4 separate regions of the Homo sapiens genome follow, and all the other regions are reported to be linked to region 3. The links are microRNA targets in miRTarBase. Many come from high-throughput screens and were not tested one by one. Region 3 holds a microRNA gene; each other region holds the end of a gene's coding sequence.

Region 1 (5,000 bases), not on the chromosome of region 3:
TGGAGATCTAGATTTAGAATATCTGGAGTGGGGCTCAGATATCGGAACATTCCTAGTTGGAAATCACTCAGGGCAATTATAACAGTTTTGCTGAGGTCAAAAACCAAAACCCTGCTAATACCATGTAAGAAGTGGGATTTTGGGTGTCTCTTTCTTAGTTCCTGTGTGGAGTGGTGTGAACATTGCTGGCGTCCCTCTGAAGGATCTGAACCCAGATATAGGAACTGATAAAGATCCTGAGCAGTGGGAAAATGTCCACAAAAAAGTGATTTCCAGGTAATATGCTAGTTTCACATTTTCAGTACCTTAGAAGTTGTGAGCCTGAACTCTGTTAGAAGGTTGAGATTAGTCCCTTAAATATATGTTGTTGTATTTCCCATATTTTTATTTGCACTTCTGCTTTTCTGTGTGATCATATTCACCAGATTATAAATTCTTCAACAGTCAGGAACTGATTCTGTGTTGCTTATTCCTGAGCCTAACCCAGTATTGAGCACATGGTAGGGGCTCACTTGTTGACTGACAATGTATTTTTTCAAACACTTGCTATATAGTGTTTATTGTAGTGGTGGAATTGATTCCATATTAATTTCTGCATCTCTGTACTTGTAACTCAAATGTTTAACCACTGTGGCAGGGCATGGTGGCTCATGCCTATAATCCCAGCACTTTGGGAAGCTGAGGTGGTAGGATCACTTGAGCCCAGGAGTATGACACCAGCCTGGGCAACATAGGGAGACCCCATCTCTGCTGAGGTGTGGGAGGATCACTTGAGCCCAGGAGTATGAGACCAGCCTGGGCAACATAGGGAGACCCTATCTCTACAAAAAAAATAAAAAATTAGCTGAGCATATGGTGGCTTGCTTGAGCCCAGGAGGTCGAGGTGAGCTCTGATGATGCCAATGCACTCCAGCTGAGACCCTCTCTCAAAAATGCATATATATGGCCGGGCGTGGTGGCTCATGCCTCATGCCTCTAATCTCAGCACTTTGGGAGACCAGGGTAGGTGGATCACTTGAGATCAGGAGTATGAGACCAGCCTGGCCAACGTGGTGAAAACCCGTCTCTACTAAAAATACAAAAATTAGCCACGCATGGTGGCGCATGCTTGTAATCCCAGCTACTCAGGAGGCTGAGGAGGGAAGATTGCTTAAACCTGGGAGGTGGAGGTTGTAGTGAGCCGAGATCACACTACTGCCCTCCAGCCTGGGTGACAGAGCAAGACTTAAAAAAAAAAAAGAAGAAAGAAAAAATGCATACATACTACAAGTAATTTCTAGAAGTTGTTGATGGAGTCACTGCAGTTTTGTGGCATTGTTAGATACATTGCTACAAAGTGGAAGTTCAATGACAAGTGCATCTTAACTTATGTTTATGGTTTCTTCTATCTACAGTGGCTATGAGATGGTCAAAATGAAAGGTTATACTTCTTGGGGCATTAGCCTATCTGTAGCTGATTTAACAGAAAGTATTTTGAAGAATCTTAGGAGAGTGCATCCAGTTTCTACCCTAAGTAAGGTAGGACATTCATGTTCGAAAAATCATTAACTCAACATAAAATAGGGGGGTAAAGAACATTTTTGAGGCACTCTGGTTTTGGGTTTGATCTCGTGGGAAGCACCTCTCTTCCTGAAGTCTGTTCTTTGCTGCTGAAGAGTGGGGAGATTGGGGAAAGAGCCTATCTTTGTAGACCTTTGTCCTGGTCTAGTGTGACATTTCTTTTTATTAGATAAAAGTAAGTGTTTTGGCATCTTTATTATTTAACTAAGTGAACTGATTCTACCAGTATCTAGAAACATTGGGAACCACTATGGGCAGACCTTGGTACCTTTGGAGTTGTTCTCTTACAGTTTCAGTTATGTCCAATGATGAGATCTAAGAAAGCAGCACTAGACACAAAATAATTAGCAGTTAGTCTCCTGGGGAAAGGGGAGTTGGGGCATGGGTGAGATCCCTCTGCTAGTCTAAATGGGAGAGGTTATACAACAAGACAGATCTAGATCACTGCAAACAAAGTCATAGGAATTTTGAAGTGGTCTCCTGATAGGAAGTGGTATGGAGTAAGGAGATGAGGAAAGAAGGGTGAGCCCCAGCAAACATGGCAGGAGGCTGGGGCCTATATGGAGAGATGGTGGGTTGAAACTGAACAATAAATATGTCTAATCATGTTTTAAATTGTTTTCTGTCGGCCGGGCGTGGTGGTGTGTGCCTGTAGTCCCAGCTACTTGGGAGGCTGAGGTGGGAGAATGGCGTGAACCCGGGAGGCGGAGCTTGCAGTGAGCCGAGATCGTGCCACTGCACTCCAGCCTGGACGACAGAGCAAGAGTCCGTCTCAAAAAAAAAAGAAAAAAGTTCTCTGCCTTGGTACTCTGCCATAGTTCGTACTATACCAATCTGTTATTCATTCACCTCCCAACTGTTGTTTCTCATATTGCAGAACTTTGTTAAAAAAGGAATAATTTTTAAGTCTTTACTTTCAGGGCCTCTATGGAATAAATGAAGACATATTCCTTAGTGTCCCATGTATCCTGGGAGAGAATGGTATCACAGACCTCATAAAAGTAAAACTGACTCTTGAAGAGGAGGCCTGCTTGCAAAAGAGTGCAGAAACACTTTGGGAAATTCAGAAGGAGCTCAAGCTTTAAAGTTGCTTAAAGCTAATTCTGTAGATTGAAGATGAAATAGTAGTTATGGAATTGTATATGTCAAACTTTTGAATAAATTTGAATTTCTAAAAGTTGGAAAAATAGAGGAAAGAGTGACCTATTTAGTATAGCCTTCCAGCTTTTTTTTTTTTCTTTTTTGGGAGGGTCTCATTCTGTCACCCAGGCTGGAGTGCAGTGGCACAATCATGGCTCACTGCAACCTTGACCTCCCGAGCTCAGGTGAGCCTCCCACTTCAGCCTCCAGAGTAGGTGGGACCACATGCGTGTGCCTCCATGCCTGCCTAATTTTTGTATCTTTTTGTAGAGATGGGGTTTTGCCATGTCATCCAAGCTGGTTTTGAACTCCCAAAGTGCTGAGATTACAGGGGTGAGCCACTGTGCCTGGCCTTAGCTTTGATTTAGTATCCAGATGATAGATGACACTTTTTTTTTTTTTTTTTTAAAGTGACGGCATCAAAGATGTTTTTGGTACTTCTCAGTACTTGCCTTGTATGTATACGTAATTGCCATCTGGTCCACAAGAATGTGTTTACTGTGTTACACAAATCCTGATTCTTTTCATCAGGTGCATAGTAATTCTTCTCTATGGCTTAATACCTATGTTCATTTACATGCTATCTCTACAATGTAAAAATAAAAGTGTATATATATACACACACACACAGAGAGTAATCTAAATGTTCCTAACACTAGATAAAACATTGATTTGACCTTGCTGTTTTTTATTCTTTGAGTGCATTTTAATTTTTACAGAAAAGGCCTTAAGCTGTAAACCGCTTGGTGACAACAGATTAAATTGGTCATTCTTCTCTTGGGAGTAGAGTGGGCTGCCTAATTATCTTAATAACATCCCAAATTGGAATATACTTTTCTTTGTAGCCTTGTAGCCTCATGAGCTTTCTAGCACTCTCATTTTGATCAAGAACATTCTATTCTGGATGAGCTCTGCAGGACATACAGCAGCTATATAGTTCATTGGGTGGTCACAAACTTGGCTACAGAATCACTCACCATGAAGACGAAACTTTAAATGACAATAAAAGCAGGGAGGCAATGGTACACTATCTTTCCCTTTAATCCTAAAGTTATCAGGTATATAGTTTGGACCTGCCACTCTGCTCCTTTTTGATGAAAACACTTATGGTTCAGTGAGGCCTAGAAAGGAAACAAATTTAGTAGGGTTGGTAGGAGAGCATCTCCTTGGACCTTTCACAGATAAGTTACTCAAATGCTTCAATTTCAAATATTTCAAAATTTAGATTTCTATTTGGTATATCCCCATGTTAATTCACTTTATATGCTGTAGAATAATACTAAATTTCAACTTAAGATGGATTTTATGCCTTTTTTGCTAAATGAGAAGTTGGGCTTACTAAGGTTTCATGGATCTTTCCTAAAGTCCAATAAAGGAGAGAAAAATTATGCAACAAATTTTATTTAGCAGTCCCAACATTCAGCACAAAAAGTTTACAGAGGATAGAAAGTGCATTAATAAAAGCCAGTCTTTACCAAAAGAAAACAGAAAATATATTATTGATTCAAAATATTTTACACTTGAATGATAAACTGCAATAACTTATTCTGGGCACCTACTGATAAAAGGAAGAGAAGAATACTTTAAGAAGAGCTCAACCTCCAGCTGGTATCAGAGAAGTCAGTAGAGGTCACTGAGACCGGCAGTCTTTCTTGCTTTTTGCATTAGTGCCCTCAGCTGGAACTGTTTACGGGACAGAAGACGTACATGCTGGGAGGGGAGAAAAGTTTGAATAGTTTAGAATGGCTTTGATTTAGGCCCAGGCATAAAATAGACAATTTGTAACCTAGATGGGATCTAAGAACCCTAACTCATGACCTGCCAACCTTTGGAATGAATACCTCATTATATGTGGCTTTTAAGCTGCATATTATAAAGGCTTACTCAACAGGGAAAGCATTACATTGCAGGATCTGGCTCAGGAGTTTGACCTACACTTTCTTTTCCTAAGCCATGCCACTCAAGCAAGAGATTGTACAGAAAAAGAGTCCTCTCTTGGGTCTCTGGTTTATATCCAGCCATTCATGTGGTTGTACCACTTCTGAGGCACATGGTTTGGCCATTCCCCCACAGTGAGAGGAGATAGGCAAGATCAGCACATGACCTGACCAGGCTCCAGCTACAGCTGGATCAGATATCCCAAGGGTGGCTGCTATTATCCCTAAAACCATGTTCTCCATGACCCAAGAGACAGCAGTAGCCAAACTTCGCTTACTAGATTTTCCTCTGTACAACAGCATTAAGCTTGAGACAACTTTCATACAAGAGGGCTTGAAAGGGCAGCCTGATACTTTGATGTG
Region 2 (5,000 bases), not on the chromosome of region 3:
GCGCGGCGAGGGGACGGGCGGGGCGAGTCCGGGAAGGGGCGGGGCCGCAGCCGCGCCCCTGACTTCCACCGCCTGCGGGTGAGACCGCCTACCATCGCCCGGCGCGCTTGAGCATGCAAGGGGAGGTGGGATTCCCCTGGCCCGCCCCCAAGCCACGCCTCTGGCCTATGAGAACTGAGCTGTCCCGCAGGGACCGAGAGAGGAGCCTCCGCTTTCGCAGGGGCTGGGCGTTCCGGGCGCACTGCGCCCTCTGTTGATCCTCTTAGGAGCTGCGTGGGGACCGTCGGGCCTGCCGTTTCGCACCTGGCCGAAAGGGGTCGCTGTGCCGGGCCAGATCCTATGTAAATTTAGCTGGATAATCTCAGCAAGAGAAAATTGGCTGCAGTGCAAAGAAGCCAGGCTCAAAAGGCAGGGTTATCCCATTTCTATGACATGTCACAGGTAAGACTATGGCAACATAGATCAGTGGCTCCTAGGGGCTGGGTTGACCACCAAGAGGCATGGGGGGCATTGGAAATGAAGGAACTAATTCATATCTTTTTTATTTTGCTTTGGTTTTATTTATTATTTATCTATTTATTTATTTTTGAGACAGTTTCGCTCTTGTTGCCCAGGCTGGAGTGCAATGGCGCGATCTCGGCCCACCGCAACCTCCGCCGCCTGGGTTCAAGCGATTCTCGTGTCTTAGCCTCCCGAGTAGCTGGGATTACAGGCATGCGCCACCACGCCCGGTTAATTTTGTATTTTTAGTAGAGACAAGGTTTCTCCATGTTGGTCAGGCTGCTGTCGAACTCCCGACTTCAGGTGATCCGCCCACCTTGGCCTCCCAAAGTGCTGGAATTACAGGCGTGAGCCACCGTACCCGGCCTGTTTTATTTTTTCTTTAAATCATATCTTGATCATAGTGGTGGGTAGGAAACTATGCATTTGCGTGTAGGAAACACGCAAAACCAAAAATCAGAAAGTGTGACTTCTACTAAATGTAACTACTTTCATTTTTAAAAATTATTTATTTATTTATTTATTTTTTAAGATGGAGTGTCGCCCTGTCACCCAGGCTGGAGTGCAGTGGCACAATCTCAGCTCACTGCAACCTCCACCTCCCCGGTGCAAGTGATTCTCCTGCCTCAGCCTCACCAGTAGCTGGGACCACAGTTACTGGCATTCGCCACCATGCCAGGCTAATTTTTGTATTTTTAGTAGAGACGGGGTTCCACCATGTTGGCCAGGCTGGTCTCAAACTCCTGACCTCAAGTGATCCGCCCACCTCGGCCTCTCAAACTGCTGGGATTACAGGCGTGAACCACTACTGTGCCCAGCCTAATTTTTGTATTTTAGTAGAGTTGGGGTTTCACCATGTTGGCCAGGCTGGTCTTGAACTCCTGACCTCATGTGATCCACCCGCCTCGGCCTCCCAAAGTGCTGGGATTACAGGTGTGAGCCACCACGCCCAGCCAACTACTTTAATTTTTTAAAAAAGATATTAAAACCAGAAAGCAGGTGGTTGCTGGAGACTGGGAGGAGGGGGAAGGAGTGACTGCTTCATGGAGTCATTTTGGAGTGACGGACATGTTTTGGAACCAGGTAGGCTGTGTAACACTGTGAATGTATGAAGTGCCATTGAATTGTTCACTGTAAAATTCCAAGAAAACCTGCAGACTCCTGCCTTTCTGTGAAGAGTTCGTGTCCACTGTCATCGTGGGGTGAGCTGTGATTCTGCCTTCTGCTCTGGCCTCAGTCCCCAAGCACCCAGCACTGTGAGCATGAGGCATAGGAGGGGACCACGGTGTAAATCGATCTCTGGTCACGGAAGAGTGAAGGATTTAAAGGACCATGGCCTAGCCTGGGCAACATGGCAAAACCCTGCCTCTACAATAAAATATAAAAAAGTCAGCCGGGCCCAGGCCAGGCACGGTGGCTCACACCTGTAATCCCAGGACTTTGGGAGGCCAAGGTGGGTGGATCACCTGAGGTCAGGAGTTCAAGACCAGCCTGGCCAACATGGTGAAACCCCATCTCTACTAACAATACAAAAATTAGCTGGGCATGATGGTGGGTGCCTGTAGTCCCAGCTACTCAGGAGGTTGAGGCAGGAGAATCGCTTGAACCTGTGAGGCAGAGGTTCCAGTGAGCCAAGATCGTGCCATTGCATTCCAGCCTGGGTGACACAGCAAGACTCCATCTCAAAAAAAAAAAAAAAAAAAAAAATTAGCCAGGCTTTGTGGTACAGGCCTGTAGTCCTAGCTACTAGGGAGGCTGAGGTGGGAGGATCACTTGAGACCAGGAGGTCAAGGATGCAGTGAACTGTGATCAAAACACTGCACTGCAGCCTGGGCGACAGAGCAGGACCCCATCTCACACCAAAAAATAATAATAAAAATTTAAAAATAGCCAGGCATGGTGGCTCATCCCTTTAATCCCAGAACTTTGGGAGGCCGAGGTAGGCGGATCACTTGAGGTCAGGAGTTCAAGACCAGCCTGGTCAACATGGTGAAACCCTGTCTCTACTAAAAATACAAAAATTAGCTGGGCATGGTGGTGCACTCCCGTAGTCCCAGCTACTTGAGAGGCTGAGGCAAGAAGATTGCTTGAACCCAGGAGATAGAGGATGCAGTGAGCCGAGATCACGCCACTGCACTCCAGACTGGGAGACAGAGACTCTGTCTCGAAATAAAGGACCATGCCAATCCCCAATAGGATGCAATGTCCTTGTGCCGTTATTATCGCCAATTTTTAGAAGAAGAAATTGAGGCTCAGAGGAAGCGGTTTGTCAGAGGGGGAACTGACCTCTGGCAGACCAATTCCAGGATCTTAGCACTTAAACACCACACCACGGGGGGGCAGGGGGGTGCTGGGGGGGTGCGGTTGGAGGGGGTGGGGTTCCCCTCCTAGGGGAGGAGAGGATGAGGCTCAGAGAAGTTACAGAAGCCCAGGAAGTGGCAAAACCTAGGGATTAACCAAAGCGTAGGGACCAAGCAGGGCCCCTGAACACCTGTGTCCTTTCCCAGGTTTTCGGAATCGGTGGCTTGGTTGTCCTTCTCTCCTTGCCGCCCACCAAAGAGCCACTCCCCAGCCTCAACACCATCTTCCATCTTTACAGAATACCCAGGGTCATCCCAGGGAAACTGAGGACCCCAATTTTTCATCGCAACACCACACACAAGCTGAGGGAGTAACTGTGCTCACACACACCCAGTCCGCTTTGGGGGGCCCAAGGAGCCCCCCTACTCTAGATGGGGTAGCCCTGCCCTGGTCTTCAGGCCAGCCCACACCCAGGAGACTCAGAATCTAAAAAACAAAGTACAAACTTTATTTTGTTTCTTTACAAAGGCACGGTGGCCTCTTGGTTTTTTTCTCCCCACTTTCTTAACAAAATATAATAGCTTCTCCTTGAACACGAAGACCTCAAAATTGTAAAAAAAAAAAAAAAAGAAAGAAAAAAAAGAAAAACAAAACAAAAACAGAAAGCAAACCAAAAAGAAATAAAAAACCAACAACAAACAAAACAAAAAGAGAGAGACAGACATTTTTGGGGTGGAAGATGAGACCTGGAGGCAGAGGTGGGGGCTGGGGGGTGGGAGAGTGGCGAATTCTAGTGCCGAGATGGGGAAGGGGGAGGGGGGCACAGCAGCAGCAAACCCCAACCAAGAAGCAACGGAGACCTCCGGGCCCCCAGAATGCCCCAGCCTAGTCTTACCCCCAACCATGTAAGTGCTTAAAGGAGAAAGAAGAAAACCCAAAAAGAGGAAGGAAAGGGGATTGAAGGCTGACAATCCCAGGCTGGCTCTGGGCAGGGAAGAAATAACCTGGGGTTTTGTTTAATTTTCCCTGTTCTTAAAAAACATATTTAAAGGAAAAAATGCTTTTTGGCAGAGAGAGGCCAGGCATCTCCGTGTCAGCTTCCTCCAGCCCCCGGGGCCGAGGCCCCGCCCTGGGGTGCCGATGCTCCCACACGCTCTGCGACACCCCAGCCCCGGGACCTCGGGTTGAGTGGCTTCGTTCAAAGGTCGATTTACAGTATTGAAAAAGAGGTCATAAAAGAGACCCAAATGACATCGTAATTTTGTAAAAATTTCTCACTCATTCGCCCATGTCTCTCCCTGTGGCTGCCCCGGCTCCCTCCAGCCCCCAGAAGGGAGAGGAGGGCTGGGGGGGTAGTCAGGGAAGCTCCCCGTCCCCCGACGGCTCCTCCCGGCTCTGGTCCATGGCGTCACTGTCTGAGGCCTCGGAGTCGGAGGCGGTGTCAGAGGTGGGGGCCTCCGGGCAGCTGCGGACAGGCTTCACGATGACAGCTCGCCGCTGCTCCTCCTCCAGCTCCTGCTTTTCCTGGGTGCCCTCGATGTGCTGGATTGCCTGGACAGGGACGAACCACTGAGAAGGCTCGGCCGGGGATACATGGCCAGCCAGGAGACAGTGGGGGCTCTCAGCCAGCCACTGTCACCCCCAAAACACATAGCCCAGAAAAAAGCCTGGCAAAGCAGCAGGGGAGGCCCGCTAGAGTACAGGAAAAACAAACTCCTTTTACTTTTTTTTTGGAGACAAGCTCTCGCTATATCACCCAGGCTAGAGTGCAGTGGCATGATCATAGCTTACTGCAGTCAGACTCCTGGGCTCCAGCGATCCTCCTACTGCTCCCTCCCTAGTAGCTGGAACCACAGGGGTGCGCCACCATCCCCAGCTAACTTCTGTATTTTTGGTAGAGACGAGGGGGTTCTTGCTATGTTGCCCAAGCTGATCTCGAACTCCTGACCTCAGGCAATCTTCCTGCCTCAACCTCCAAAAGTCCCGGGATTACAGGCATAAGCCACCACGCCTGACCCAGGAACAAACTTTCAAAACCCCTCTGTTAAGTTGAAAAATCCATTCTGGGAAGATGACAGTCCCAGTGCTGCTTAGAAATTATATTATATGTATCAGCCAGGCGCAGTGGCTCACGCCTGTAATCCCAACACTTTGGGAGGCCAAGACGGGAGGATCACCTGACGTCAGGAGTTCGAGAC
Region 3 (5,172 bases):
TCACCTGTAATCCCAGCTACTCGGGAGGCTGAGGCAGGAGAATCACATGAATCTGGGAGGCGGAGGTTACAGCGAGCAGAGATCACACCGTTACACTCCTGCCTGGGCAACAGTGTGAGACTCTGTCTCTAAATAAATAAATAAATAAAAATAAAAATAATTAGGTGAATATGGGACCAGCATGGACTTGGGTGTCGCCTTTGTGCAGTGGCCAGGATATTCTATGTCATTTAAATTTTTTTATGTGTACTTCCAAAGCAAGCAGTTATGTATAGGAATTATTCTTCCTATAAGCATGCAATATTTGGAACTTTCTTTGAGACAGGGTCTCAAAAATACATGATGTATATTTCATTTTATATTCTTATATATTATGTACACACAAAATACTCTTCTAAACACAGAGAATACTCCGATATCACCTAGGGTGTGTGTGCGTGTGCGTGTGTGTGCGTGTGTGTGTGGTTCTTTTCTGAGACAATATCTGCCTCTGTCACCCAAGATGGAGTGTGGTGGTGCAATCTCGGCTTACTGCAACCTCCACCTCCCACCTAAGCCTGCTGAATTAGTCTCTACAGGCATGCACCACCACACCTGGCTAACTTCTGTAATTTTTGTACACATGGGGTCTCGCCATGTTGCCGGGGCTGGTCTCGAGCTCCTGAGGCAGGTGATCCTCCTGCCTGGGCCTCCTAAAGTTCGAGGAGTTAGAGGTCTGAGCCACTGGGCCCCACTTGTACTTGTGTATTTCTGCTCAAATTTTATTGAGTAGTTTTTACATCCTAGCCTGTGATCTACTCTGGAGAGTGTTTGTGCATATGACAGTGTATATTCTTCAACATCGTAGACTCCATTTTGGATGCTCCCTTCGTGACTGTGGGTCCTGTACTGGAACTCGAGTGAACACTTGGCTTAAAATCCATTGCTGTTCTCCAGAAATCCTGCCCAATTTTCTCGGTTAAAGGTACGTGTAGTAGGCATTGCTTTTTCTCTTTGGGGACAAAACTCAGGAGGATTGCCCCTTGATGAACAAGGCTAACCTGCTGATTCTTTGAAGCAAGGAACTGGAGATGGTCCTTATAGAGTTTTATATTCTGGATTCCATAAAACATGCATACAGGGTCAATAAATGCATCTTTATTTTTGTGTCTATTTTAACTTGGTCAAAGAAAATTCCAGGAAAAAATCCACGGCATCAGAGCAAGAAGATGTCAGGCTGTGACCCTCTTGAGGGAAGCACTTTCTGTTGTCTGAAAGAAGAGAAAGTGCTTCCTTTTAGAGGCTTACTGTCTGAGAAAAGCAACGTTGTAGTTGATGCTGATCTTTGTAATATCTTTGCAGAGCACGCTTATAATCAGACTTGGATGATGTTGGGGTTTTGTTTTTCTTTTGTTTTTTTATCTAAGACTGGGTCTCTGTTGCCCAGGCTGAAGTGCAGTGGCACAATCTTGGCTCACCACAACCTCCGCCTCCCGGGTTCAAGTGATTCTTCTGCCTCAGCCTCCCAAGTAGCTGGGATTATAGGACTGCGCCACCATGCCTGGCTAATTTTGTATTTTTAGTAGAGACAGGGTTTCTTTAGGAGCTTTTAAGGCCTCCCTTGTAGTCTATCCTGGAGGATGTTTGTGTGTGCAACAATGTATATTCTTCAACATGGTAGATTCCATTTTGACTGCTCTAATCAGGACTGTGTGTCCCTGTGCTGGAAATCAAGTGAACACTTGGCTGAAAATCCACTGCTGTTCTCTAGAAATCCAGCCCAATTCTCTTGGTTAAATATAAGGTATGCATAGTAGGCATTGCTTTTTCTTTCTGGACACAAAACTCAGGAGGATTTCCCCTTGATGAACAAGGCTAACCTGCTGAGCCTTTGTAGGAAGGAACGGGAGATGGTCTTTTTAGGGGTCTATGTTCTGGATTCCAGAAAACATGCAAACAGAGCCAATAAATAGGTCTTTATTTTTGTCTCTATTTTAACCTGGTCAAGGAAAATTTCTACAAAAAACCCAGGGTGCTGGAGCAAGAAGATCCCATGCTGTGACCCTCTAGAGGGAAGCGCTTTCTGTTGTCTGAAAGAAAAGAAAGTGCATCCTTTTAGAGGTTTACTGTTTGAGGAAAGCAACAGTGAAGTTGATGCTGATCTTGGTAATACATTTGCAGAGCATGCTTATCATCAGACTTGGATGATGGTGGGATTCTGTTTTTATTTTGTTTTTTTTTCTAAGACAGAGTCTCTCTTGCCCAGGCTGGAGTAGGGTAGCACTTCCAACGTAGATCTTTTAGGCTCAAACGGTCCTCTTTTTTTTTTTTTTTTTTTTGAGGCGGAGTCTTGCTCTGTGACCCAGACGAGAGTGCAATGGCGCGATCTTGTGTGCAAGCTCACCTCCTGAGTTCAAGCAATTCTTCTGCCCCAGCCTCCCAAGTAGCTGGGACTACAGGTGCCTGCCACCACTTCCAGCTAATTTTTGTATTTTTAGTAGAGACAGGGTTTCACCACGTTGGCCAGGCTGGTCTCAAACTACTGACCTCAAGATCCACCCACCTCAGCCTCCCAAAGTGCTGGGATTACAGGCGTGGGCCATTGTGCCCAGCGGTCCTCTTTTTTGAGATGGAGTCTTGCTCTGTGACCCAGGCTGGAGTGCAGTGGCAGGAACTTCGCTCCCTGTACCCTCCACCTCCCAGATTCAAGCCATTCTCTCCTGAGTCAGCCTCCCTAGTAGCTGAGATCGCAGACATGAGCCACCATACCCAGCTAATTTTTGTATTTTTATTATTTATTTATTTACTCATCGATTTTTGAAACAGAGTCTTACTCCGTCCATCAGGCTGGAGGTCAGTGGCACAATCCCACGTTCAAGCAATTCTCCTGCCTCATCCTCCCGAGTAGCTGGGATCACAGGCGCACACCACCACGCCCGGCTAATTTTTGTGTTTTTTTTGTTTGTTCGTTTTTTTTTTTTTTGTAGAGACAGGGTTTCAACATGTTGGCCAGCCCAGTCTCCAACTCCTGACCTTAAGTGAGCCCATACACAATCAAGAAGAGAGCGAGACCTGTTCTTTTTTTCTGTCTTTGACTATTTGAGACAGTCTTGCTCTGTCACCCGAGATGGAGTACATTAGTGTGATCTTGGCTCACTGCAACCTCTGCCTCCTGGACTCAAGCAATTCTCTTTTTTTTTTTTTTGGAGAAAGAGCCTCTCTGTGTCTCCCAGGCTGGACTGCAGTGGTGTGATCTCAGCTCACTGCAACCTCAGCCTTCCAAGTAGCTGGGATTGCAGACATGTACCCCCATACCAGCTATATATATATATGTATTTTAGACACAGTTTCACCATGTTAGCCAGGCCATTCTTGAATCCTGACCTCAGGTGATTTGCCGACGTAGGCCTCCCGAAGTGCTGGGATTACAGGTATGAGCCACTGCACTCAGCCTTTTTTCCTAATTTTGAATATGGGACCCATTATGAATTTGGGTGTCACCTATGTGCGGGGGCTATGGAAATCTCTGTCACCCCATTCATTTGTGTGTGCTGTCAAAGCACCAATATGTGGGAATTATGCTTTATGTGAGCATATAGTATATGGAACTTTGGTTTTTTTTTATACAGGGTCTCAAAAAAAAATGAGTATATTTCATCACAATGTTCTGTGTATAATTCCATACACACAAAATAGTCTTCTATACACAGAGAACACTCTTATATCACTTTGGAGTTGTTTTTGTTTGTGTATTTTGTTTTAATTTTTATGAGACAGGGCCTGGCTATGTCGCTGAGGCTGGAGGGCAGTGGTGAGATCTTGGCTCACTGCAACCTCCACCTGCCACCTCAGCCTCCTGGATTAGTGTCTACAGGCAGGCACCACCACCCCTGGGTAAGTTCTGTATTTTTGGTACTGATGAGGTTTCAGCACGTTCCACAGGCTGGACTCTTAACTCCTGCGATCAAGTGATCCTCCCGCTGTTCAAATTTTACTGAGGAGCTTTTAAGGCCTCGCCTGTGGTCTGTCCTGTAGTGTCCCTGTCCTGGAACTCAAGTGAATACTTGGTTTAAAATTGATTGCTGTTCTCTAGAAATCCAGCCCAATTCTCTTGGTTAAATATAAGGTATGTGTAGTAGGCACTGCTTTTTCTTTCTGGAGGCGAAACTCAGGAGGATTGCCCCTTGATGAACAAGGCTAACCTGCTGAGCCTTTGAAGCAAGGAACTGGAGATGGTCGTTTTAGGGGTTTATGTTCTGGATTCCAGAAAACATGGAAACAGGGCCAATAAATGCATCTTTATTTTTGTGTCCATTTTAACCCAGTGAAGGAAGATTTCAACCAAAAACCCACGGTGCTGGAGCAAGAAGATCTCAAGCTGTGACTCTCCAGAGGGATGCACTTTCTCTTATGTGAAAAAAAAGAAGGCGCTTCCCTTTAGAGCGTTACGGTTTGGGTAAAGCAACGTTGAAGTTGATGCTGATCTTGGTAATATATTTGCAGAGCATGCTTATAATTAAGACTTGGATGATGGTGGGTTTCTGTTTTGTTTTTTGTTTTAAATCAGAGTCTCACTCTGTCACCCAGGCTGGAGTGCAATGGCGCAATCTCGGCTCACTGCAACTTCCCCCTCCTGGGTTCAAGTGATTCTCCTGCCTCAGCCTCCTGAGTAGTTAGGATTACAGACATGCGCCACCTCACCCGGCTCAGTTTTTGTATTTGGTGGAGATGGGGTTTCACCATGTTAGTCAGGCTGGTCTTGAACTCCTGATCTCAGGTGATCCACCTGCCTCAGCCTCCCAAAGCATTGGGATTACAGGCGTGAGCCACCACGCCAGGCCTGTTCAACATCTTAGATTTCATTTTGGATGTTCCTGTGAGGACTGCGTGTCCCTGTGCTGGAACTCAAGTGAACGCTTGGCTCAAAATCCATTGCTGTTCTCTAGAAATCCAGCCAAATTCTATTGGTGAAATATAAGGTATGTCTAGTAGTCATTGCTTTTTCTCTTTGGAGACAAAACTCAGGAGGATTGCCCCTTGATGAACAAGGCTAACCTGCTGAGCCTTTGAAACAAGGAACTGGAGATGGTCCTTTCAGGGGTTTATATTCTGGATTCCAGAAAACATGCAAACAGGGCCAGTAAATGCATCTTTATTTTTGTGTTCATTTTAACCTGGTCAAGGAAAATTGCT
Region 4 (5,000 bases), not on the chromosome of region 3:
CAGTCCCTTCCAGTGCTCTCCTTTCTTTCCCAGGAGACCCCAGCAGCTCCAACACCCGCCGGCGCCACTGGAGGCAGCTCAGCCTGGCTAGACAGCAGCTCTGAGAATAGGGGCCTTGGGTCGGAGCTGAGTAAGCCTGGCGTGCTGGCATCCCAGGTAGACAGCCCGTTCTCGGGCTGCTTCGAGGATCTTGCCATCAGTGCCAGCACCTCCTTGGGCATGGGGCCCTGCCATGGCCCAGAGGAGAATGAGTATAAGTCCGAGGGCACCTTTGGGATCCACGTGGCTGAGAACCCCAGCATCCAGCTCCTGGAGGGCAACCCTGGGCCACCTGCGGACCCGGATGGCGGCCCCAGGCCACAAGCCGACCGGAAGTTCCAGGAGAGGGAGGTGCCATGCCACAGGCCCTCACCTGGGGCTCTGTGGCTCCAGGTGGCTGTGACAGGGGTGCTGGTAGTCACACTCCTGGTGGTGCTGTACCGGCGGCGTCTGCACTAGTGAAGCCCTGGGCTCTTCCCACCACCCATCTGTTCCGTTCCTGCAGTACACCTGGCCCCTCTCCGAAGCCCCTTGTCCCTTTCTTGGGGATTGTGGAGGCTGGGTCAGAGGGGAGTTAAGGGACTGCAGGCCTGGCAGCAGGACATGCCTTGGCTGAACCAAGTCCTGAGAGCAGCATCTCTGTCCCCACGGTGCCTTGTGTGGGTCCCCGTCCTTGGCTTTCTGGGTCCTGGGCTGCCCCCAGTGCTCCAGACCTTCCCCACTGGCAATCCAGGTTATCATCCATGTCCTCCAGAGGAGCTTCCTCCTCCAGGCCTCAGCCCTGTTGGCCCAGGTGGAGCAGGAGGGACCACTGGAACATGTGGTGCTTGGGAATGCCTCTCCTGTTGCATTGGTCCCTGAAGGCCTCAGGGCAGGTATGTGGTGTGTGGGCGACTCCACAAGACCTGCCTCCCATCCTGGCAGCCCAGCCTGAGACCGTTGCATTGAGGCAGGCAGGAGCGGCAGGGTGGCTGCTCTCCAGGAGCCCAACTGCCTTGAGTTCCTGCCCCACTGGGCCCCCTCCCCTGCTGGGCAATCCTGGGAAGGTCTGGAGGTTCCTGTGGACCTCAGGGAAGCCAGGGGCAGCTGTCAGGCCTGAGGAAGACCTGTGGAGCTCCTCTCCAGCCTCCTCTTTCCCTCCCCTCTGGTCTCCATTCTCTTCAGCTCCCTACATGGGCTGGGGAGGAGACACCTGGTGGGCAGAGCTCAGGCAGAGGTTTGGATTTCAGCTCCCTCACTTCCGGGGCTGTGTGGCTTTGGCAGATGTCAGACTTCTGGTCTTGCTTCTCCACGTGGACAGTGAGTATCTGGCTCATTCTTCACTGGGTTCTTCTGAGATTGAACCTACAGGTGTTTGCCAAGTGCCTGGCCCAGAGCAAGTGGCCACTGCTTCTCCCATCTCTCTCCTGCCCAACCTGGTAGAGCTGAGGGCATGAGAGGCAGAGTGCACAGTGGTCAAGGGTGCAGCTCTGCAGCACAGGCAGCCTAGGCCTGCGTCCCAACCTGCCTCTCACCAGCTCTGTGACCTTGGGCAAGGGATTTATCTGTCTGTCCCTTAGTTTTCTCACCTGTAAAAGGAGGATAAGTATATATATATATTTCCCAGTGTTGTGAAGATTAAAGGAGTTTATCGATGTAGGTCTTAGGATGAGTCCTGGCATTTACCAAGGGTTGGATATATGTTATTATCACTATTAAGTGTTGAGGGTCCAGGCATGCTGGGCAACAGGGACCCCATCTCTACAAAAAAGTTTAAAAAATTAGCCAGGCGTGGTGGTGCACCTGTCGTCTTAGCTACTTGGGAGGCTGAGGTGGGAGGATCACTTGAGCCCAGAAGCTTGAAGCTGCAGTGAGCTAGGATCGTGCCACTGCACTCCAACCTGGGTGAGAGAGCGAGACCCTGTCTCAAGAAAAAGAAAAATGCAGAGAAACAGGAGTCTTGGCTACTCCTTTAGAGGCAGACTCAGACCCTCCTGCCTCACAGCTTTATCTTTGTATTTGCCCCTTACTTTATCTTGTGCCTTGAGAAATTGCTGGGGAGAGAGGTATGTCCACTGGGCAGCTGTACAGGATGGAGGATATAGGGCGTTTCCACTCCCAGCAGCCAGGTTCCCTCACCCCAAGCTCACCCACTGTTGGGGAGATTATCTACAATAACACCAGAAACACATTGGGGTGGATTGGGGGTATCCTTATGGGTTCTTTTCAGGGAACCATTGCTGGACAAGGCACAGGAGCCACCTCCATTTCTGAGCTCTGCAAGGGACAAGAACTAGAGCCATCAGGGGCTGGGCTCACTGTGGCCCCACCCCAAGCCGTCAGCCTCCAGGGATCTACACCCTGCCTTGGCTGCTACAGCTTTTTCACTCCACTGCCCTAGGGGAGTTCAGCAACCTAATGATCTCTATCTCTGAACATCTCTTCATCCCATGCTCCAAGTCCAGCAACCTGCACCCTGGAACCAGGAGTGGACCCTACCCGAGCTGTCTGTATTAATCCCCATCCCCCACCACCAATCTTAAAAAGCCCTCTGTCCCCCTACCCTAAACCCCAGTTAGGTACCCATGCTGGGCAGGTCAGTTAACAATTTATGCACAGGTACTAGTTTTATTGTATTACCGTTCCAGGGTAGCTTTGAAAAAAGTATCTCAAAAAGGCAACATGGGCCGAGCGCAGTGGCTCACGCCTGTAATCCCAGCACTTTGGGAGGCCAAGGTGGGCAGATCGCCTGAGGTCTGGAGTTCAAGACCAGCCTGGCCAACAGGGTGAAACCCCGTCTCTACAAAAATAAGAAAATTAGCCAGGTGTAGTGGCAGACGTCTGTAATCCCAGCTATTCAGGAGGCTGAGGCACGAGAATTCCATGAACCCAGGATGCGGAGGTTGCAGTGAGCCGAGATTGTGCCACTGCGCTCCAGCCTGGGCGACAGAGTGGTATTCTGTTTCAAAAAAAAAAAAAAAGGCAGTATGTAGCCCCGAAGACTGTTGCCCAAGTGGTAGAATGTTAGCACACTACCAGCCTAGGTAAAAAATACAAAAAGTAACTGGGCATGGCGGCGCCCATCTATAGTCCCAGCTACATGGGAGGCTGAGGTGGGAAGATAAGTCACTTGAGCCCGCCAGGAGGCGGAGGTTGTAGTGAGCTGAGATCGCACCACTGCACTCCAGCCTGGGTGACCGAGTGATACTCTGTCTCAAAGAAAAAAAATTATAATTTTAGCACAGTAACCAGCCATGATGGGAGATACCCTGGGTAAGGCATGTAGAAAGGGTTGAGGGACCTTCCCAGTCCCCTAGCCCCGCCTCCCATCCTCCCATCTTTTTCTTTTTTCTTTTTTTTAGAGAATCACCCAGCCTGGAGCGAAGTGGTGCAATCATAACTCACTGTATCCTTAAACTCCCGGGCTTAAGCGATCCTCCTGCCTCAGCCTTCTGAGTAACTAGGACTTCAGGTACCTGTCACCATGCCTGGCTAATTAAATTTTTTTTTCTTTTTTTTTTTTGAGATGGAGTCTTGCTCTGTCACCCAGGCTGGAGTGCAGTGGCGCGATCTCAGCTCACTGCGACCTCCACCTCCTGGGTTCAGGCCATTCTCCCGCCTCAGCCTCCAGAGTAGCTGGGACTACAGGCGCCTGCCACCACGCCTGGCTAATTTTTTTGCACTTTTAGTAGAGACGGGGTTTCACTGTGTTAGCCAGGATGGTCTCGATCTCCTGACCTTGTGATCCGCCCGCCTCGGCCTCCCAAAGTGCTGGGATTACAGGCGTGAGCCACCGCGCCCAGCCAAATTAAATTTTTTATAGAGATGAGGTCATGCTGTTATGTTGCCCAGGTTGGCCTCATGAGATCTTGCCTTAGCCTCCCAAAGTGCTGGGATTACAGATGTGAGACACTGCACCCAAACCCCACCACTTTTTTTTTTCCTTTTTCTTTTTTTGAGACAGTCTTACTCCGTTGCCCAGGCTGGAGTGTAGTGGCATGATCTCAGCTCACTGCAACCTCCGCCTCCCGGGTTCAAGCAATTCTCCTGCCTCAGCCTCCCGAGTAGCTGGGATTACAGAGGCCTGCCACCACACCCGACTAATTTTCGTATTTTTAGTAGAGACGGGGTTTCTCCATGTTGGCCAGGCTGTTCTTGAACTCCTGACCTCAAGTGCTCCACCTGCGTTGGCTTCCCAAAGTGCTGGGATACAGGAGTGAGCCACTGCGCCTGGCTGATCCCAGCACTTTTCAAATGATGCCGCTCAAAGCCGTGACTTGGCCTACTTTGAACAGCAAACTTGTTGCTGCTGTTGTCAACCTGAAGGCCTCTCAAATGCCAGCTTCAAGCAGGGTGTGAATTGGCCAGTGTCAGATCTCAGGAGTCCTGTGTTGAGAGTGTGGCTTTCAGCTGCGGGGAGCTGCACTTGGTGGGGAAAGCCAGGCAGGTCACCCTCACAGCCAGATAATGTGGAGGTCAGAACCCAAGGAAGGGAGTGAGACCTCCACTCCCAGTGGGGGACCTGGCCACCCATCCTTGGGGACCTGAGAAAGCGTACTTCACCTTGGGGTGAAGGCTGGGTGGGGCCAGAGGGACCAGTGCCCTCCTCAGTGCTTAGGGGCAGAGCCACCTGCAGCAATGGTATCTGCATATTAGCCCCTCTCCACCTTCTTTCTCCCGCTGAATCATTTCCCTCAAAGCCCAAGAGCTGTCACTGCTTCTTTCTCCCTGGGAAGAATGCGTGGACTCTGCCTGGTGATAGACTGAAGCCAGAACAGTGCCACACCCTCGCCTTAATTCCTTGCTAGGTGTTCTCAGATTTATGAGACTTCTTAGTCAAATATGAGGGAGGTTGGATGTGGTGGCTTGTGCCTGTAATCCCAGCATTTTGGGAAGCCGAGGTGGGAGGATCCCTTGAAGCCAGGAGTTTGAGACAAGCCTGGGCAACAAAGCAAGACCCTATCTCTAAAAAAAAAAAAAAA

The links. Region 3 holds the annotated microRNA hsa-miR-519b-3p (AAAGUGCAUCCUUUUAGAGGUU, at 2,082-2,103, shown strand). A microRNA usually pairs through its seed, bases 2 to 8, with sites in the 3' UTR of a target mRNA and lowers its output. Matches are read on the target gene's strand: a 7mer-m8 pairs with bases 2 to 8, a 7mer-A1 pairs with bases 2 to 7 and ends in A, and an 8mer does both.
Region 1: miRTarBase lists TSG101 as a target of hsa-miR-519b-3p. Seed matches in the 3' UTR shown: 7mer-m8 at 4,148-4,154.
Region 2: miRTarBase lists TFAP4 as a target of hsa-miR-519b-3p. Seed matches in the 3' UTR shown: 7mer-A1 at 3,709-3,715.
Region 4: miRTarBase lists MAVS as a target of hsa-miR-519b-3p. Seed matches in the 3' UTR shown: 7mer-m8 at 3,697-3,703 and 7mer-m8 at 4,440-4,446.

Annotation. Positions count from the first base shown.
Region 1 is chr11:18,476,226-18,481,225 of GRCh38, forward strand. TSG101 (tumor susceptibility 101) reads right to left here. Exons shown (of 10, transcript NM_006292.4): 10 at 4,086-4,410. The coding sequence ends at 4,321. It overlaps LDHAL6A (lactate dehydrogenase A like 6A), which reads left to right. Exons shown (of 7, transcript NM_144972.5): 5 at 159-276; 6 at 1,395-1,518; 7 at 2,481-3,376. The coding sequence ends at 2,645. Among named protein-coding and RNA genes, the nearest start is that of LDHAL6A, 23 kb to the left of the region's middle.
Region 2 is chr16:4,253,897-4,258,896 of GRCh38, forward strand. TFAP4 (transcription factor AP-4) reads right to left here. Exons shown (of 7, transcript NM_003223.3): 7 at 3,290-4,353. The coding sequence ends at 4,159. Among named protein-coding and RNA genes, the nearest start is that of LINC01569, 2.6 kb to the left of the region's middle. RefSeq lists a silencer at 1-161.
Region 3 is chr19:53,693,182-53,698,353 of GRCh38, forward strand. MIR519B (microRNA 519b) reads left to right here and starts at 2,032; the gene lies at 2,032-2,112. MIR526B (microRNA 526b) reads left to right here and starts at 1,212; the gene lies at 1,212-1,294. It overlaps MIR525 (microRNA 525), which reads left to right and starts at 4,352; the gene lies at 4,352-4,436. It overlaps LOC107985342 (a long non-coding RNA gene), which reads left to right. Exons shown (of 3, transcript XR_007067332.1): 3 at 848-1,441.
Region 4 is chr20:3,865,650-3,870,649 of GRCh38, forward strand. It overlaps MAVS (mitochondrial antiviral signaling protein), which reads left to right. Exons shown (of 7, transcript NM_020746.5): 7 at 34-5,000. The coding sequence ends at 498. Among named protein-coding and RNA genes, the nearest start is that of PANK2-AS1, 21 kb to the right of the region's middle. RefSeq lists an enhancer at 363-864.